2 separate regions of the Homo sapiens genome follow, and region 2 is linked to region 1. A link means that fine-mapping ties the variant in region 1 to the expression of a gene that starts in the linked region. Tissue or cell type: testis. Region 1 holds a variant in brackets; the other region holds the start of a gene. All regions are shown on one strand. Distances are from middle to middle.

Region 1 (10,134 bases):
CTTTCTACCCATCTCTAGGGCGCTGTTGCTTCGACCAATGCCCACCTCAAAGGGGTAGTCATTTCTCAGGGGAATCTCCAGTTCCTGCCCCCATCCATATCAAATCACCATCCACTTATCTTTTTTCTTTTCTAAAATGTGTGCCCTATCCAATGACTCATCCCCAGAGCAGCAGAAAGCACTCTTAGACAGTGGTGAGAAAGGCTGAGGCTCATATATCAGAAAGGCAAAGAATAAGTGTCCACTCCAAAACCTCTGGACCCCAGCTCCACTGTTCACCAGCAACCATAGTCAGCCAAGGGAGAAGCATTACTCACTGCTCATTCATCCCAGGAAAGACCCTCCTGACATACTCAAAAGCAGAGGGAATGGTTATTTTACAGAAGGAGGGTCTCCTTGCTCCATCACATCCCAGGGTTCAGAAAGTCTTCCCTATCAAACCAGTCTGATGCTATTAAAAGTAGTCAGGGGATACTGGCTGGAGTCCCAAAGCATAAGGACCACTGGTCACCAGAGAGTCACAAGCCCTGGCAAGTCAACTCTTAAGACACTAGATCCTTGGCTGTGAAAAGATATATCAGGACCATGAGGCCCCACCCTGACTAATGCAGTGTCCACCTAGTTCTCTGCGAAGAGACACCAGCACCATGGGTGGAAAGGGCTAAAGCCTCTAAGACATAACCAACATCCAAGACCAGAATTATAATCAGGACAGAATCCAAGATTTCACTCCAAAAAATCAAGATTCCTCCCAGCCAACACGCATGCCTGAGAATCTACCTACTTTGGCAGAAACTGGTAAAAGATACCAACCACTGTGGTTACTAGAAAAGGTCGACAGTCACCTACACAGAAAAAAGGAAAGGAAAAGAGAGGGATAAATAGATGATCCTATAAAGGAAACTAGGACGGAACCTCTCTCTCTCCCTTTTGTTTTTTGTTGTTTGTTGTTGTTGTTATTGTTGTTGTTGTTGTTTTGAGACAAGGTATCACTCTGTCACCCAGGCTGGAGTGCAGTGGTATAATCTCAGCTCACTGCAACCTCTGCCCCCTGCTGCCTTGGGCTCAAGCAATCCTCCCACCTCAGCCTCCCAAGTAGCCTCAACCACAGGCACACATCACCACGCCCAGCTATTTTTTTTTTTTTTTTTTGAGACGGAGTCCCCCTTTGTCACCCAGGTTGGAGTGTCACGACGCGATCTCTGCTCACTGCAACTCCGTCTCTCAGGTTCAAGCAATTCTCATGCCTCAGCCTCCTGAGTAGCTGGGATTACAGGTATGTGCCACCACACCTGGCTAATTTTTGTGTTTTTAGCAGAGACGGGGTTTCGCCATGTTGGCCAGGCTGGTCTCAAACTCCTGACCTCAGGTGATCCACCGTCCTCGGCCTCCCAAAGTGCAGGGGTTACAGGCATGAGCCACTGCACCAGGCCAAACTTCTCTCATTCTGGCCATATAAGTCTACACCTATAACACTGTCATCATCATTGCTAGCATTTACTGAGCACTTACCACATGGCAGGCACCATGCTAAGCATTTTACGTGCAGTACTTATATAAAAACAGATGTACTGTTTTAATCTCTATTTACGGATATGTACTGTTTTAATCTCTACTTACAGATGAAGAAGCTGTGGCTGAGAAGTGAGGATATTCCCCTGAGCTACCCAGCCAGAAAGTGGTAAAGTGGGGACCACTGGCTACTCTCATGCTCTTGATGATGCCTTACCCTACCCCGTCCACCCATCTTGTTTGAACACCTAACATGGAGGATGCCTGAAACTAGAATGTACAGAGGAAGGGGCTCCTTAGAAGGGGCTCACAGAATAAACAACTGCTCTCTGTGCTGTAACGAGAGGACAGGGTTTGGTCCAGGGGGAGAATCAGAAGAAAGACCACTCCCAGCAGAGGGAATAACGTGAGTCCAGGTCCAAGAGGGCTGAGGGGCCTTGACATATCTAAGAAATAGTCCCTTGTAGCTGGAGCAGAACTTTCATGAGGTAGAAAGGGAGAAGAAGGAGCCGCAGTGAAGGGCTGGGGCAGGACTGGAAGACTACAGACCCTGCCAAGGAACTTGGAAATGACCCTGGAGTCACAAGTAGTTTTTAAGCAGAAAAGTGTTGTGACAAGATTTGAGTTTCAGCAAAACAACTATGGTTGCAGTGAGACAAATTAAACTGAAAAAGCAACAGACTGGCAGTGAGCCACAGTAAGTAACCTATTACAATTGTCCAGGGGACAATGGTGAATGACAAACTCAAGTACTGGGGATGGAAAGGATGGGACAGTCAGACAGAGTAATTAATTTCACATACACGGAGAAAGAGTGGTCCATGAGTCCTAGGAAATCTCTCTGACATCACATCACTTACTTGCTCTGGCTAAGTCCCTGTATGTCACCAATCTCACAGGAATATACTAGCATTTAGTGAGTTCAGCGGGGTTTAGTGGTCCCACTCCTCCTACCTCTAGGCTAACATTCACCCACCCACTCTTCCCTTCCAACAGGAACTGAAGCTTCTGCAGCCACAAACACCTAGAAACAGGGTTCCTTCATTTTCAGTTGTAGCTACCAACTCACATATTACTGACTGCTACTAACTAGACCAGATGCAATTCCACAGTTCTGGCATGCTGAGAACAGCCACTCCTTGCCAACGCGGCTCAGTCCTGCATTCATTTGGGACATCTCTGGCAAGCCCCCAGGTATCAGTGCAATGCACTTTGCAATGTCAGCCAAGGGCATGCAGCAAGGAACTCAGGGAATGGCACAACCTAAGAATGACGTCAGAGGAGACAGAACGGATAGATGAGCTTCCTGGGGCTGGCTAGTGTCTTGATCCTTCAGACAGGCACCCAGGCCTTATGCAAAGTTTTCAGACAGGCTGGTTAGTTAACAAGATTGGGATACTAGGGTGATAGTTTGAACCAGGCCACTCCCAAACAACTCTGGCTGGCCATAATGTGCATATGTGTTCTGGGGAACAAGGGAACAAATCAGATGTATTCATGTGGACCAGCACTGGAGAAACAACCCAAAGCACCAGGCTTCCTCATAATGTGCCCACATCCATGCCTGCCGCATGACTTAACAGCATGAGGTGTGGATTTCTGCTGCCTTGTTGGGCTGGAGGATAGAAGGAGACATGATAGGGAACTAATATATTTATAGGCCTCCTGTAGGCACAGCACAATTCATCAGCCTTGAAAAATGACTCCTTTAACCAGCCCCAACTTTCTATGGGAACTTCACTTTCATCTCTTTCTTGGAGGCCGTACCCACTTCCCACATCTCCCATGCTGCTGAGTGAAAGGTTCTCATGATTAAAACAGAAGAATAAGCACCATCTCCCTGACCAAACCTCCCACGTGTCTGCAGGACACCTAGCTCTCTCTAACATCCTAAAATATAACTGCTTCAAAAGGCGTCAACTTGGACACCTACAGCCCTTGCCATCTTGTGCAAATTAAGCCCAGAAAACACAGCTGGGACTCCATCCCTCACCTCATCCAGGCGCAGATATCACCAGCAGGAAACAGAAAGCCAGAGGCTTTTGTGCAGCCACTTTCCTTACTAAAGAACATCTCCTTAAACACCTGCCTCCCCTGAATTTTCTCATCGTATCAGCTCAAACTGACTGAGAAGAGCTGCCAGATCTCCGTCATACCTCTGAAGTACCCAGCTACATACCAGATAAAAATAACCAAAAAAGAGGAAGCCTATCAGATGCTCGATGGTTTTGTCAACAGAAAGCAGTTCTTTCTTGGCAGGTGGCCATGGGGTGCAGCCGCCGCACAGGCTCTCCAGGGCCTTGTATCCCCAAGCTCTGCTAGCAGAGTTCCCTTAGCAGGCATGGAAGGTTGCATTTTCAAAGTGGTCCATCATCTCCCATCCTCTGTGCTTTTCCCCAGTGTGATCTTGACACTTTTCCCACTGAGAGGTGGGTCTGTGTCCTCTCCACTTGAAGCTGAGTGGTCTTGAGACTCACTTTAACAGAATGCAGAAGAAATGACAATGCCCGACTTCTAAGCTAGATCAGAAAAGATGCTACAGCTTCCCCATGTTCACTGGAACACTTGGGTCTGCAGCCTTGAGCCACTATGTAAGGCCAAGAGCCCTAAGAGAGCCATGCTCATGGACAGACTGCACATGGGCACTCCCATCAGCAGTCCTGGCCTCCAGCTTCTCCCAGCTCAGGCACTGAGCCATGTGTGTGAACAACCTTCAGATGGTTCCTGCCTCCATCTGCAGCCTCCCCTAGCCTTCAAGTCTTCCCAGGTGAGGCCCCAGACATTGACAAGCCATCCCTAATGAGCTCTTTCCAAATTCCTGACCCAAGTCTCCATGAGCTTAATAAAATGTTCTTGTTTGGGGTCGTTTGTTCTGAAGAAATAGTAATGGAAACAGTAGGTGATACACTGTGAGTCTAGTCTCATATCTGCTGCTGCTCTTGAATTTTTTAAAAAGGAAAAACTACCTTTTACTGAGCATTTACTTTGTGCCAGGCATTATGCTAAGGGTTTACACACATAACTTCATTTAATCCTCATTATAATGCCATGAGTAAATACTAGAATTATCCCCATTTTACAGAGGAGGAAATGGGCTCAGGGTCGAGGACTTTGCCCAAAGCCAGGTCTGCCTGATTCAGAGCCCACAACTGTACCAGCCCACAACTGTACCAGCCCAGGTTCTCTGGCCACTTAGAAAGAGGAGCTGTTTCACATGGAAGACTCAACTTCTTGGGAGCATGGCTTTCCTAGTCAACATTCCAGGTCTGGGAATTGCCTAAAGAACCCAGGTGATGGGACATGGCATCAGTGAACACTTGGCTCTGTCTGAGCTGGGGCAGGCCGCCTTCCCTGGGAGGTCATAGCTATGGCCTACCTGCCCTATTACCAACTCTTGAATCCTACCCCTTCTTTGAGGCCTAATTGTTCCATCAAGGCCTCCCAGGGAATTCTGCCTTCTCCAGACCCCATCTCATGTATCTTGACACGCTGCCCCCTACTACATCACACTGTTCTGGTTGTTTAGGATGTGTTTACATAGCACAACTCCTAAGGATGGAAAGAATGCAGTGGAAGTGACCTCTATGTTATGTATATAATAAATTGACCGTATTTCTTACAGCATGTATGCAATAGCAGGCACGTCAATTTCTTATGAGGACATTTGGGTAATAAAATTACCCACATCGGTTGAGAATCATGATCTATACAAAAAGAAAACATTCCAGGCTCTGTGACCTGCACTTCACCCCAGGCATTGCAGAGGAGAAAGGATTTGAGGGCAGAGGAGGAAGCGGTACAAGCCACCACAGATACCACCTTCATCCCATCACCTTGCAGGCAAGGAAGTCCCAACCACAAAGGCTCGAAACACTGGGAGTTGCCATTGTGAACCACAAGTCCTTAATAGCCCTGGAAAGCTATGAAACACCAATTAAAGTTTCCTATGAATCACTTTTCAACCTCTCCATGTAAGAGCAGGGAGGAACCAACCTCAAGTACCTCCTCAGGCCAAGACTAGCTTTGCTCTGACTCACTGTCTTTCAGTCTATGATATGGATGCTTTTCTAATTCCTTCCTCCCACCTCCATGTCCATTGCATGGGGAAGATGAGACTTCCTAGCATCTTCCTAGTCTACCTCTGAATATTACTCTACAAATCCTGTTCCCCATGAGACAGAGTTGAGGATCTCACCATGGTAGGGAAAATTCAAAACTATACAAATTCTCTAGATGTTACACCTCAGTTTCCAGGTGAAAGCCAGTCCTTTCCTTCCTTCCCTGCTACCTGGAAGGTGGGCATAACAGGCATACCCAGAAACTGCTGGGAAAACGCTCAAATGCCGTGTTCTCTGCCTTCAGTGAATGCCCATGTAAGGAAAAGTCTTAGAATATCTTATTTTTCCTCAGTGGGGTCACTTTTACTCTTCCTGGAAGGTCATTATCCCAGTCTCTCCACCAATATACTACACATCAAATCAAGCATCAAAATGCTTGTAAGAAACCTAAAATTGGCCAGATTCATGGTCCATGCAACTAGAGTCAAGCATATAAAGCCACAGACTCACATGTTAGAAGCCCAGGACAGTACTGTGTCCAAACAACGGTAAGGTGGGAAGGAAGACGGCATCCTAAAGTAAATTCAAATTAGTCTGACTCTTATTTTTCTTGAGCATCCAAAGGTTTCATATGATCCACAGCAACGCTTCCTCAAATACCCCTTTTTAATTCCATCCACTGTCCTTATAGAAAGAAGCTCCCTCATTTCCTGCTCAAAATTCCTCCCAAAAGAGCTCCTGAAGGATT[C/CT]ACTCTTTGTCCCCTCCCCTTTCCTCCCATCACAAAGCTCTAAAGTTCCAGGAGCAGCAAAATCCAAATTCTCTTTGTGAGGTGGGCGAAGGAAATAGCCGGGAGGCTTCACTCATTGATAGTCCAGGTGTTATTCCACCAGCAATCAATCCAAATTGGAGCTTCAAGGAATGAACAGTGAAGTCAAATTTGTCTTTCATAGTATTCATCTAAAAGTGTTAAGTGGGCACCACAAAGCATGCTCAGCGCTCCTCCAGGAGGAATGGAACTGCTCTCTTGCTCACGCATGGTCCATTTGGCCATAAATTCAGCTGCAAAGAAACACCCCAGAAAGGCCCGCTCACCTCCCAGACTACACAGAGCTGAAAGACGTGGCATCTGAATAACCACACAGGGCTCTGCAATTAACAGACGTGTCCAAACCCTTTTTGAATGTTTATATTACTTTTCTGGTTAAAATTTTTTAAATTCCATAAACAATCATCTGTGAATGTATCTGAAATCTATATATACTTCTTTTGTTTAAACAAAAACAAACCACGGCCAGGCGCAGTGGCTCACGCCTGTAATCCCAGCACTTTGGGAGGCCGAGGCAGGCAGATAGCCTGAAGTCAGGAGTTCGAGACCAGCTTGACCAACATGGTGAAATTGCACCTCTACTAAAAATACAAAACTAGCTGGGCATGGTGGTGCATGCCTGTAATCCCAGCTACTTGAGAGGCTGAGGCAGGAGAATCGCTTGAACCCGGGAGGTGGAGGCTGCAGCAAGCTGAGATCGCGCCACTGCACTCCAGCCTGGGAAACAAGAGCAAAACTCCGTCTCAAAACAAAAAAAAATACTAAAATAAATAAAATAAAATAAAAAACAAAACCACAACACAAACACAAGTAAGTACAAGAGCCCAATAACATGGAAGCTTCTGCGATGGCCCAACTTCTGGACAGCTGTATGCAAGCACAATTTTGGTTCAGGACAAACACTAACAAGAAGCAAAGCTGAAGCCGGGCACAGTGGCTCATGCCTGTAATCCCACAACTTTGGGAGGCCGAGGTGGGCAGATCACTTGAGGACAGGAGTTCAAGACCAGCCTGGCCAATATGTTGAAACCCCATCTCTACTGAAAATACAAAAATTAGCCAGGTGTGGTGGCAGGCGTCAGTAATCCCAGCTACTCAGGAGGCTGATGCAGGAGAACTGCTCGAACCCGGGAAGTGGAGGCCACTGTACTCCAGCCTGGGAGACAGAGTGAGTGAGATGGAAGAAGAAGCAAACCTGAGGCTACAGAAGGATGGCTGAGGTTCAAATTGTGCTTTTGGAGGGGCCCTGGGGAAAAGAGAAATGAGAAACTAGCTCTCAGGTCTTGTGCATTTTAGGACCATCAGGTCTGGAGGTACCAGAGGTCCTGGGTTGGAGAAATAAAGGATCCCCTATCTGTAGTTCGAAATGTGGGGATGATCTACCCCACAAAGTCCCCAAGACCAGGTTTAATGTCCAGGTCTAGCCCTGTTGCACCCAGACTCTGGTGAGTCACAGGGTCCGTCCTGCAGAACAAGGTGCTAGAGAAGGATCTCCTATTGCAGTCTGTTTCCAACAAGCAGAGCAGAAAGAAAACCATGCAAGCACTCAAGAGCCTGGTATTTGAGTCCAGGCCCTATCATTCTCTAGCTATGTGTTCTTGGGCAGGGCATTGTTAAACCTCCCTGAGCCTCAGCTTCCTCTGTTATAAAATGGGGATACTACCACCTCTTCCTGGAGTACCTCAGGTAGATACTGTTTCAAATAAAATTCTAAAGGACCAAATACAAAGCATGATTACAGGAGTCCCTCCTTATCTTCAGGGGACACATTCCAGGATCCCCAGTGGATGCCCCAATCCATGGATAGAACCCTGTATATACTGTTTTTTCCTATACATTCATACCTATGATAAAGTTTAATTTATAAATTAGGCACAGTAAGAGATTAACACTAACAATAAAATAGAACAACTATACTATAAGAAAAGTTTTATTAATGTGGTTTCTCTCTCTCTCTGAAAAGATCTTGTTGTACTGTATTCGCCCTTCTTGTGACGTTATGAGATGAAAAAATGGGTACGTGATGAGATGAAGTGCGCGGTAGATGACATAGGCGAGGTGACACAGTGACACAGTGTTTGGTACTCCCAACCTTCTGATGTGTAGTCAGAGGATCGTCTGCTTTGGATGACCCGGGATCATTGAGTTGTGACAATGTCAATGGTTGGATGTCAGGACAGACCATGTGGATGACTAATGGGCAGGTAGTACACCCAGTGTGGACATGCTGGACAGGATGTGATTCACATCCCACACAAGAAGGGGTGGGAAGGCGTGAGACTTCATTGCGCTACTCAGAATGGTGTGCAATTTAAAACTTATGAATCGTTATTTCTAGAATGTTCCATGTAATATTTCTGGACCACAGTTGACTATGAGTAACTAAAAACAGGGAGAGTGAAATGGCAGATAAGAGGGGACTACCATACTCTTTCTACTACCTCTAGGACTATTTGGGGGATGAAGGAAATGAGGGCCATGTATTACTGTCACCATGAATAATAAGCCAAGGAGAGTATCAGATAATATCAGGTTACACTAATAATCTTAAGTCATCTGAAGCTTATGTGGGAAAATTTTACGTCCTTAGTTGATTTTCCATTGCCATCCATGGGATGTGATGTGGCATCTCCCCTTGTCACTAGCTGCTGTGCATTTGGGCAAAGCAAGCTATTTTATTATTAATTTAATCCAAATACTTAGTAAGGGTAGGTCTCCTAAGGCAGGGGAGAGGGGAAAACAACTCTCTATCACACAACTGTGCCAATAACAGGGAGATTATTAACAATCCACTCCAGGATTCCCATCTATCTCTCAGCGGGGATTCCTATCTCTAAGCACAGGGAGCCAGGAGTCTACTGCTTAAGAAATAAAAAATGTTTTTATTATTCTTTTCTTCCTAAAAATTGTACCACCTAGAAGAATACTGAACACTGTTATCCTTCTACATAACATACCAAAGACCGAGTTCATGTTAGTAACCAGGAAAAACACTGACTTCACCCCAAACTTTGACCTTGGGACCTTACAAGGAAATTGTCCCCCTGGTTCCTCGAATGGGGTACAGATCCTGTTTCCACTGTTGTCTGAAATACTTTGGTCCTAGCTGGAAAGCCTGGCAGAGTAACAGTGTTCCATTGTCGGGCTAAAAGAAGGAACACTATCATGAGCATCAGGATGACCTTAGGCAAGTCACTCAGCTTCTCTAGTTCACAACTGTAAGGTTCCAGTAAGCTCTAATCATATCTATAAGCAAAAAAGAAAGTCAAGAATGACCAGAATCCAAAATCTATCGCTATTTTCCCTACCCACAGTCCTTTTCTCCTTCCTCTTATTTATTGTTTTTATTTTTAGTTTTTTGGTTTTTCTTGGTACTCACTGATTAAGGCATCCTCCTTCCTCTTGGACCCTGAAGGTTAACAGAATGCAGAAACAAAAACAAATTTTAAGTGTCCAGATGGCATGTACACCGTGAATAAAACAGCAGGAGGAGATGAGGTATATAGATAAGAATAGGAAAGCCAAATATAAAGATGAAAACAGTTGTATCTGCACACTGGAATCTAGCATAACTATTTTTTTTTCCTTTTTCAATGATACTTTTTCCTGTTATATTGCCTCATAAGCCACATCAGCTTGCAGTCACAAGGATTTGCAGAGAAAGATCTTAACTATAAGATCAGTCACTGGCTGGGCGCAGTGGCTCACACCTGTAATCCTAGCACTTTGGGAGGCCAA
Region 2 (10,134 bases), 27 kb after region 1:
AAGAATGAATGTCATGGCAGAACATTGTAGACTAGCAATCGGCATCCATTCCATAATCCTTCTAGCACAAATTTCAGTACTACAGAGGCTAGGAAGCTAAAAACTACATTTCCCAGACTCCTTTACAGCTAAAGTTCTGAATGCAGATTAAATTCTGCCAATTAGATGCACAATATTTGAAAGGCAGAAGTGAGATGAAGACCATGTTCTTGCTGCAGGGATTTTTTGCATCAGCATGTTGGTGTCCAATCACTAAGTCTGTAGATGTGGAGAGGAATGTTTCATAGCCAAGTGGTTGCCTAATCTCTGGGCTGCAGACACAACAGGGTGTTTTTGAAGCCAACAGCTTCAATGGCAGCTCCTGATTCTGTATGTTCCCAATTAGAGAAGTAGCAGCTGACCTGGTGGGCCAGTTCTGCTATGTTCTGGGAGTTGTTCACATAGGTCCAGCTGAGAGCCTCTTCTCTCAGCCCTTCCAACAATTCTGCAAGCACAGAATTTCCTGTGCTAAATCTCTTTCTTGCTCAAAATAGCTTGAGAGTTTCTGAGCCCCAGAATGAATCCAGACTTATTACTAACTTGTGCCTGATGTCATCTATATGAATGAGAAAAATATGCCTATGTTATAAAGAAAGATTAGAAACTCTCTTGGAGAAATACATGTTAAGAGTCTTCCTGGTCATGGAGGGAGGAACATTCATGTTTTTCTAGCAGCTTTTACACATATGAAAAGATGTGTGATTACTTAACAAATTTGTATCTGTTTTCTTATTTCCTCAACTGAGTATCTGAATTCTCCTTAAGGGAATTTTAACTATTGTACTTTCTCTTGTACCCTCCCTTCTTTCCTCCAGTCTTAAGCATAGTTGTAAACACACAGTAGGTGTTAAATATTCATTTAAATGCAGGAGGGATTGAAAAAATAAATGCAGGGAGGTTTAAAAGACATGATTCAGTACTAGGGTGCTGAAAGGACAGCTCCTCTAAAAACCTCTGCAGGGAAGGGAAAGCAATAACCTCTCTTTGAGTAGAACATAAAAATCTCAGGTTCTTGCTATTTAGTTAAGCAAATATTATGACCTGACTCCAAGAAAAGTATAGAACACAACTTTCAAGCAGATAAAAGACAGAACCCAGAAAGAAGGGAGGGAGGAAGGACCTTCTTTTTCCTTCCCTGCTCAGTCCCTGTGGATAGGAACGAAGGAACTAGACCTTCAGCTGCAGCAGAGTATGTGGGGCTCTCCTTCCCTTCCCTGCTCCAGTCAAGACCTGGTTTTAAGTAAGAATCAGGTCAAGCTGCATTCAGCACATTTTTCAGTTTCTGTGGAAGGATATTTCCAGGAATATCAGGAATAAATCCTTAGTTCTTCCATTTTTAAAGTCAAGATGTTATTCCCTCTCAATCGTATGCTTGGAAACTGAATGTTTAGGCATATTTTGGTGGGTTTTGAGTAAGTGAATGTTATATACTTCACTCAAAAATCTTAGGTACATCTGAAAATATGTCCTTCTATTTCTAGTGGATGTAGATAATAAAAAACATAAACTAATAACCTTAATGTATGCCCTGTTTGAAAACTGAAACAACTCTCTTGTTAGAGAAACTTTCATATAATACCTAGGATTGCATCTCCCAAGATAATGAGTTTGGAACTGTACATTTTTCATCTTTCACTAAAATAAAGACGATGGATGAGCTCCTGGGTTATTTATACTTGTCATCCATAGACAGCTAAACTCTAACAAGTACCTACAATGGAGAGGATTAAAGCATTATATGAATGTAAAATGATTTATAATATCATTTTTATATGTTTTCTTTGTCATAATATTTAGTAATTTCCCCTTCTGTTTTGAATAAAGTTTGAGGCCAGATACAGTGGCTTATGCCTATAATCCCAACACTCTGGAAGGCTGAGGTGGGAGGAATGATTGAAGCCAAGAGTTTGAAACCAGCCTGGGCAACAAAGCAAGACCTCACCTCTGTTAAAAAAGTAAATAAAAATAATTGGCTGGGCATGGTGGCATGCGCCTCTGGTCCCAGCTTCTTTGGGAGGCTGGGGTGGGAGGATCTCTTGAGCCCAGGAGTTCAAGGTTGCAATGAGCTATGATTATGCCACTGCACTTCAGCCTGGGCGACAGAGTGAAAACCTGTCTCTAAAAATTAAAAAAACAAAAAAAGCTTTTAAATAAAGTTTGAAGCTAAATTTTCACTTTAAGAAGCAATAATATGAAACTAAAGCTGAACAGTATTGCTTGACTTAATGTCTTCTATTCATGGTCCAGAATGCAACGTCACAACACATGCTCAGAGGAGAAGTTCAAAAGGGTAACTCTGGCGATGAAGTGTCAGTGGCTCAATTTCATTCCAAGTCTTCGGAGACAAGGTTTGTCAATCGTCTTCACTTTCCGAGTGACACAAACTGATCTGGTAGAGCACATAGACTTCAATGACCGCCCATGTTCACCCTCTGATGAACCAAGGCACTGCACTGAAGTTTTATATTTACATACTTAATCTCCCTCATGTAACTTATAAGCAACTTCTGATCTTATCACTTCTTTATGTCCTGGTACTTAACACAGTGTACAGTATCTATCACTCACTAGGTACTCAATAATTAGTTTTTGACTGAAACTAAATTTTCTGAATTATCAAAAATTAATTCTAGTCAAGATCAGAACTCCTAGTGAGGCCAAATAAAAGAACGTGTCAGGTCTTTCAAATGCCATATTCTTCAAGTTAATTCTTTCCATTAGAACAAGTTACTTCCTACTTTCTCAACATCTGGGTTCCAGATTTAGGAATCCACTCTATCCAAGATAACTTGTATGACAATGAAGATAAGTCCTGGCCACCAAATGAAAAAGTAGCACGCTGTTGCCATGCCTAGCTCTGTGGACAGTTTTTCAGCCTAAGTCATACTGACTCTTGACTGCTCTAGCAGCCAGAGCACAAGATATTGAAGAAACCGAGTTCCTGATCACGAACCTCACCTAGCTCTTCTGCTTTGACATTAGCTGTCCCTGAAAACAAAATCACAAAACTTCACCCACAGAATCAAAATCTGACTTATGTTTAAAATGACACTGTTTTCTAACATGCCAGGCTATTCATATTTCTTCCAATATATGACCAAGTTCATTTTCAACACTTTCAAAACACTATGCCAGGATGCTTAGCCTTAAGGCTACCAAACTAGTCCCAAAAAGATGTAGTATCTGGAAACAATTTAAAGTAATTTGCTACCTCCAGGCATTTTAAAGATCAAAATGAAGAAAAATGAAGTTTTAAACTGAATGAGAGGGAGAGGGGGAACCTAAAGATTTGAACATCGATTTGATAGTCAAAACACCAACAGAAAAAGAAGAGCAGAAAAACAAGCGAAGAGGCTATGATTTTGATATTATGTGCTAGTTTTTAAAAAACATCTAAAGATAGGCCAGACACGGTGGCTCACGCCTGTAATCCAACACTTTGGAAGGCCGAGGCGTGCGGATCACTTGAGGTCAGGAGTTCGAGACCAGTTTGGCCAATATGGTGAACCTCATCTCTACTAAAAATGCAAAAATTAGCCAGGCATGGTGGCGGGCGCCTGTAATCCCAGCTACTCAGGAGGCTGAGGCAGGAGAATTGCTTGAACCCGGGAGGCAGAGGTTGCAGTGAGCTGAGATTGCACCACTGAACTCCAACCTGGGAGACAACGAGACTGTCTCAAAAAAACAAAAAAACTCAAGATTAAAGTAACACAATTGCTGGGGTAAAAAATAACTTACAGAGCCAAAAACGTAACTGTTACAAAGGAAATCTTAATATTTAAATATTTAAAGTTGGTCCTTGCTAATGACGTTTTAAAAAATCAACTAAGATGAAAGTATACAAAATAAGGAATAAACAGTAATTAATACATATTAACAATACCTTTTTAACAGATAAGAGATTATGGAAACTCTCAAATACAAAATAGTGTAAACTGCACTAAAGAGATATTTACATGTTTTTTTCTGAAATAAACTAGTATGATTAAGGGATTGTGATGGCAATTTAACTCCCTTGAAAAAAAAAGAAGATTTCATTATAGGGTATGAAATATGGGGCTCCTGGAAAATTGACGGAAACCAGGACACTGGGAGAAAGGCCCTGGGAGGGACCCCTGAGCATGGTCCCCCTGAGATTTGACCAGTTCCAAAGATAGGCAAGGATCTAGAATGAGAAGAAAGAAGAAAATGTATTTCCCAAACAGCCTCACTGTCAAAGGACTGGGATTCAGCCACTGTACCTTGCAATCCTGATCTCCCATGGGGGAACGACATACTTTTTCCTCTCTAATCATCACTTGTCTCACCCCCACTCTCAACACACACATCCCTCTTAGCACATTAATCAGTGAGACTCCTAAAGGTACAACTTCTGAGATATAAGAAATAGGATCCAAGAAATCAACCCGACATTTTACAGGCAACTGAGCCTTGAGTTCACACATGCTTCCGGGACTTGTGAGCCAGCTCAGCCCTGCGGAGACACCCCCATCTCTTTGAAAGCAAATGCCTTTAGGAGGCGGGGACAGGCGTTAGAAGAGGTGGTGGCAAGGTCCCTGATTTGGGGACTAAGGCTAGGACACTAACCACCATCTTGCCATAAACACTTCCAGATTGGGAATGGGGGGCGGCGGGGGGGTGGGTAAGAGAAGGGACTGGGAAACTGGCAAATTCTCAGACTGGGACTTCAGGATGTGGAAATCGGGAGCCACTGCTGAGGTGGCCAACTGAAGGTGAAGAAGCCCAAGCGTCTGAAGTGCGGGCAGGGCCTGAGGCGTCTCGAGCTTATCCAGCAAGCAAAGCCCGGGCAGCCTAAGCGCGCGCCACCCACACCCAGGTCAATCGTCCTCCCCACCCCCCGCCCTCATCCCAGCCCTCGCGCAGTGCTCCCCCCTTCCCCGACCGCCCCCCAGGCCTCCGTCATTCCCCCTCCCCGCCCGGCCCCGCCTTCGCCTTACACTGAATGGGCGGGTAGCAACTGGGGTCCTCGCCGCCGGGCTGGCAGCGGCTGGAGAAGGCGCTGCGCGGGGTCACGTAGTTGCTGGGGAAGATGCCCACCCGCTGGTTCAGCTGCCCGGTCCACCAGCCCTCGTCGCCGGACACCTGCGAGTCCTTGGACAGCACCTCCACCACGTCGCCCAGCCGCAGGGTCAGCTCGTCCTCGCCCGCCGCCTCGTACTCGAACACGGCCGTCCAGTAGGGCAGCGGCGCGTCGCAGCCCAGCTCCCCGGGGCCCACCGCCGCCGCCGCCTCCTCCTCCTCCTCCTCCTCCTCCTCGGCCCCGGCCCCTGCTCCATCCTCCCCCGGCGGGGCGGCAGCGGCGGCGCTCGCTAGGCAGCCGAGAAGCGCTCTGGAGGGCTCCATGGAGCGGCCGATCCATAGGGTGCGGGGCCGCCGCCGCCCGCAGGAGCCGCCGCCGCCTATTGTTCATGCGCCTCCGCAGAGCTGGGAGGACCCCCCCCCAACGACGGCGGCCGCAGGTAGGGCCCGGGCTGGCAGGGCTGGGAGAGCCGGCTCGCCGGCGCTGTTACCGCGGTACGAGAAGAGCGCCGAGCGCGAGCTCTTCGCGCAGCCTAGGGGCGCAGCGGGCCGAGTCCCCGCCTGCCCGCTCGCCCCCCCGGGGGCGGCCTCGTCACCTCTGCCGCCGGTACCTGCTCGCGCAGCCGGTGCCCGCCGCTGCCAGCCGGCCGCCGCTCTCCTCTCCGCGCCGTGCCGTGCCCCGCCCCCCGCACCGCCAGCTCGCCGGGACCACCTGACGCGGGCCTGGCTCCGCCCCAGCCCTGCGGACCCCAGGGGGCTCCGCCCCACGCCCGCCCCGCCCCGCGCCCGCTGCCTTCCCATTGGCTGCGGCCGCCCAGTCCCCGGTTCCTCCGCCGTGGTTGGGGCAGCCTAGCTGGCCGTCTCGCAGGTCCCTCTCACCCCCTGCGCCGCCGTCGCACCGTGCCCTCCCCCATTGCGGGCTCTGTCATTCTCAAACCCAGGTCGACCCACTCTTCCCGCCCACTGGCCCGCCGCAGCTCCCTCCATTGGCTCGCGGCACCTGTCCGTTTCCTGGGAGAGTTCAGCACCTCCCGGCAGGAAGAGGCTCCGGCCTCATTGGGTGCGTGAGAAGGGAAGGGTGGATCCTAAAAGGTAATACTGAGCCTTCATTCAAACTAAAAGGCTGGAAGGGAGGCAGCTGCCTTTGTTTGCCATGGATGGGTAGGGGCTGCACTGAGCAGCACCGGTGTTCTTCATCCGGCTGCACCCCCAACAGAGCTCTTTCTTCCCCAGATCCCTTTTACAGTTGGATTCTCCCTCTTGGATCTGGCTCTGCCTTAGTCCGACCTAGAGGGATCAGCTTCGCCCACGCCCACTCTCACCCGGAACCTTTCATCTCTTATTGAAGCCTTTTAGGCCCATTGGGATGTTCATTAGAACTCTGAAAACTACAGTTCTCCCCTTTATGAGGACTGCACCACAGCTCGCCCTCTCCTGGGTTCCGGTAAGAAGAGATTCCAATACCACTCTTTTTTCAGAATTCAGAAAGGCAAGAGACCACCTTACTGAGCTTCAAACTGGGGCTGGGAACGCTGCCATGAATTGGGCTTGGTCTGTCTGAAGGGAGCCACCTTTTCGACAATCCTTAGACTTCTTTTGCCTGTTGGAATTACACCTTGGATCGTGGCGAAGTCTATAGAGGTCAGATTAAGAAGAACCAAAGCAGAATAAACGTAGAACCCGATGCTGAGTTCACGAGTGAGGACGACCTCTTCCTATATGCTTTGCTATACCCTGCGTTTTGAACATTAAGGACGAGATAGGAGGCCCATAATGTTTCTTCTTGCTTTAATCCTGTCGTGGCAACGTTGACTTCCAGTAAGAAAGGTTCTCTGATCTTTTTTTCTCTTTTCTTTTCTTTTCTTTTCTTTTCCTTTCTTTTCTTTTCTTTTCTTCCAGGGTCTCAGTTTGTTGTCCAGGCCAGAGTGCAGTGGCGCAATCTCGGCTCACTGCAGCCTCAACATCCTAGGCTCAAGCCATCCTCCCACCTCACCCTCCCGAGTAGCTGGAAGTACAGGCTCGTCTTGAACTCTGGGCTGAAGTCATCCACCTGCCTCGGCCTCCCAAAGTGCTAGGATTACAGGCCTTAGCCACCTCACCTAGTCCTCTGAAATTTCTAAATAAGCCAGTGCTGAAGGATCTAGCCCAACTTCTACCAAACTTTGTTACCTTTTCCCCTTCAGTGGTAGGAATAGACATGATTTATTTAGCAAGGGTGAGTGCTTTTGTTGAATTTTAGTTTGGGGTTTATTATTACACAAACTAAAGACAGCGGGGCAATTTGGAAAGATAACTAGGCAGCTGCATGACTTCAGGCAGGTGTCCTAACACTGTACTCTTAAAGTGAGGGGAGTGAACTGGAAGATATCCTGTGTCCTCATAGTTTGAACATTCTGTGGTTCGCTCATCAATATGACTACACTGTATAGTCATAGCACACATTTGAGGTCTTGAAGAAGAGAGATGAGGCTTGTTCTAAAAAGCATCCAGAGTAGGTCTTGAAAAAGGATTTCTGTTTAAGTAAAGACCTAAAACAATGCTCAGATTCCTATTATACATAGGATCCATGAACTGGAAAAGATATGGATGAGTCTGAGTAAATTATCTAGGTTTTGTTTTAGACAAAACCATTCCACTGTCAAGCAGCAGAGAGCAAGGGAGTGGGGATGGAGGTATATTGTGTTTTTTTAAAGGCCATAAGAAAATAATTGTCTTGATAAAATTTTAACTTAGGACTGGGTATGGTGGCTCGTGCCTGAAATCTCAGCAGTTTGGGAGGCTGAGGCAGGAGGATCACTTGAGCCCAGGAAGGAGACCAGCCTGAGCAACATGGCGAGACCCCTATCTCTACAAAAAATGTTAAAATTTGCCAGGCATGGTGGTGCAAGCCTGTAGTCCCAGCTGTTTGAGAGGCTGAGGCAGGAAGATTGCTTGAACCTAGGAGGTCAAGGCTGTAGTGAACAGTGTTTGCTATACCACATTCCAATCTGGTGACAAAGCAAGACCCTGTCTCAAAAAAAAGAATTTTTTTTAACTTGAGGGAAAAAAAGTTTTACAAACTGTAGACACACAGCAAAACAGAAACAGGAAAAAAAGTACTAAAAAGAGAAAAATGTCAGTAGTGGGTCTCTAAGTAGTCGGATTATGAGTAATTGGGTAAGTTTATTGTCATTTTGCTTCTCCATAATTTCGTATGTTCTACTATTTAGTTTTGTGGATTCCTTCCCACTCCCTGGGAAGAGGGGAAGAGAGGAGAAAAATCATTGATTCTTCTCAATAGGAAAACTAATTCCCTGTGCAACTTAAACCTTTAATACCATAGCATGTGTTTAGAATCTCATAAAGAATCATTCATCAAACATTTCAACAAGTCATTCAGTTAATATTTGTTGAATGGGTAAGTGCTAGGAATTCAAATGAGGGTAGATCTTTCAGACTAAACTTGTCTGGCAGGGTTGCATGGAAGAAGCAGAACCAGAACTGGTCCTGGAGGGGAATGGGGTGGAGCAGGGAAGAGTGTGTTCAGGAAAGGAGGGTGGGAATAGGCACAGCCACAGACGTAGGAAAGCATGGAGAGGGGACCATTTGGATGGAATAGAAGGATGAGAAAGAACTGAAAAGATAGGTTGAGACCAGACTGTAGAGGGCCCTGTAATCACTTGATTCACACTAGTAATTATGTAATTGATTATTTGTAATTATTTAATGTCTGGTGCATCCACCATAAGGGTAGGAACCAGTCTGTCTGGTTCTCCACAGCTCTCCCAGCACCTAGAGAGTGCTTAGCACATAATTGACTCTCAGTACTTCTTTGCAACTGGATGGCTGACTTGAATCCCAGGCGAAGAAGCCTTGGTTTTGTTCAGCATGTAAAAGATTATCACTGAAAGGTTTTGAGTAGGGCTGTGGGGTGATCAAATACTGCCTTCCCTGAGGACTAGAATGGATGAGGAGATGCTTAAGTTGGGCATTGAAAGATATGTACAACCTGATTAATAGAGAATAAAAGATGTGGAAATAGAAATTAATGTAGTGGGTAGCAATAATAGAAATTTCATCCAGAGAAGAGGAGAGAATGCAAAAAGGGAGTGATGGGAAATAAAACTGATGAAATAAAAGAAGGGCAGATTGTAAAAGACTTTGAAAGTCAGGTGGAATTACCAAGATTTTACCACTATGAAGTTTTTGAGGAGGGGATTGGCAGATGTCACCCCAAAAAAGAAACATTTTCTCTACCACGCTGAAAAGCATAGCATAAGGGAGAAAATAGCAATCAAGATGCAAGTTGGCATTAGACTTAAGTCAACAGATCATGGTTTATCCTGGCTTTGTCCTTTAAAAATGCTGTGACTTTGGGCAAGACACCAGTTTGAACCTCAGTTTCCTCAATTTTAAGTAGGTGTAATAATAATACCTGGTTTTAATGGATGTTTACAGGATTAAATGAGACAGGACATGCAGAAGCTCTTAGCTTGCTGCTCACACCCAGCAAATAGTCAACATATTTTTTTCCTTCTTTCACCTGCCCATTACCCCCAAGAAACACTCTTTAATTACACCTAGGCCTCTTGACTGAAAGTTGAACCCAGGGTTTTCCCTAAAGGAAAGAGAGAGAAGGAAGGAAGGAAAAAGGAACAGAGGCCTCTGGGAGGCCGAGATGGGTGGACCACTTGAGCTGAGGAGTTCAAGACCAGCCTGGGCAACATGGTGAAACCCCATCTCTACAAAATAGAAAAATTAGCCAGGCATGGTGGTGCCTGTGGTCCTAGCTTTTGGGAGGCTGAGATGGGAGGATCGCTTGAGCAGAGATGTTGAGGCTGTAGTGAGCTGAGATTGCTCCACTGCACTCTAGCCTGGGTAACAAAACGAGACCCTCTCTCTCAAAAAAAAAAAAAGGAACAGAAAGGAGAGGAGAGGAAGGGGTGAAGGAAGGAGGGAGGGCAGGAGGAGAGGGAAAGAAAGAAAGGACGAAAAAGAGAAAAACAGGAAGGAAGCAGGGAGGGGAGAAAAGGAAGGAAAGAAAGGAGGGAAGGGAAGAAAGAGGGCAGGCATCAT

Which allele goes with the higher level. Positions count from the first base shown, and alleles are read on the strand shown. Sizes are in standard deviations (SD) of each study's normalised expression.
For the expression in testis of the gene that starts at base 5,745 in region 2, CT is the high allele of the variant in region 1 and C is the other (moderate effect, 0.43 SD a copy in GTEx).

What was found. PIP is the estimated chance that this variant, and not a neighbour inherited with it, causes the effect.
Region 2: it holds the start of MAP3K9, and the variant in region 1 is fine-mapped to the expression of MAP3K9 in testis (GTEx, PIP above 0.99).

What each region holds. Positions count from the first base shown.
Region 1 is chr14:70,777,143-70,787,276 of GRCh38, forward strand. All of the region lies in intron 2 of MAP3K9 (mitogen-activated protein kinase kinase kinase 9), which reads right to left. Among named protein-coding and RNA genes, the nearest start is that of MAP3K9-DT, 27 kb to the right of the region's middle. RefSeq lists an enhancer at 3,547-3,636. The variant C/CT (reference allele first, on the strand shown) is at 6,319.
Region 2 is chr14:70,803,769-70,813,902 of GRCh38, forward strand. It overlaps MAP3K9 (mitogen-activated protein kinase kinase kinase 9), which reads right to left and starts at 5,745. Exons shown (of 12, transcript NM_001284230.2): 1 at 4,998-5,745. The coding sequence starts at 5,403. It overlaps MAP3K9-DT (MAP3K9 divergent transcript), which reads left to right and starts at 5,016. Exons shown (of 2, transcript NR_184164.1): 1 at 5,016-5,519. RefSeq lists an enhancer at 4,307-4,366 and a silencer at 5,307-5,946.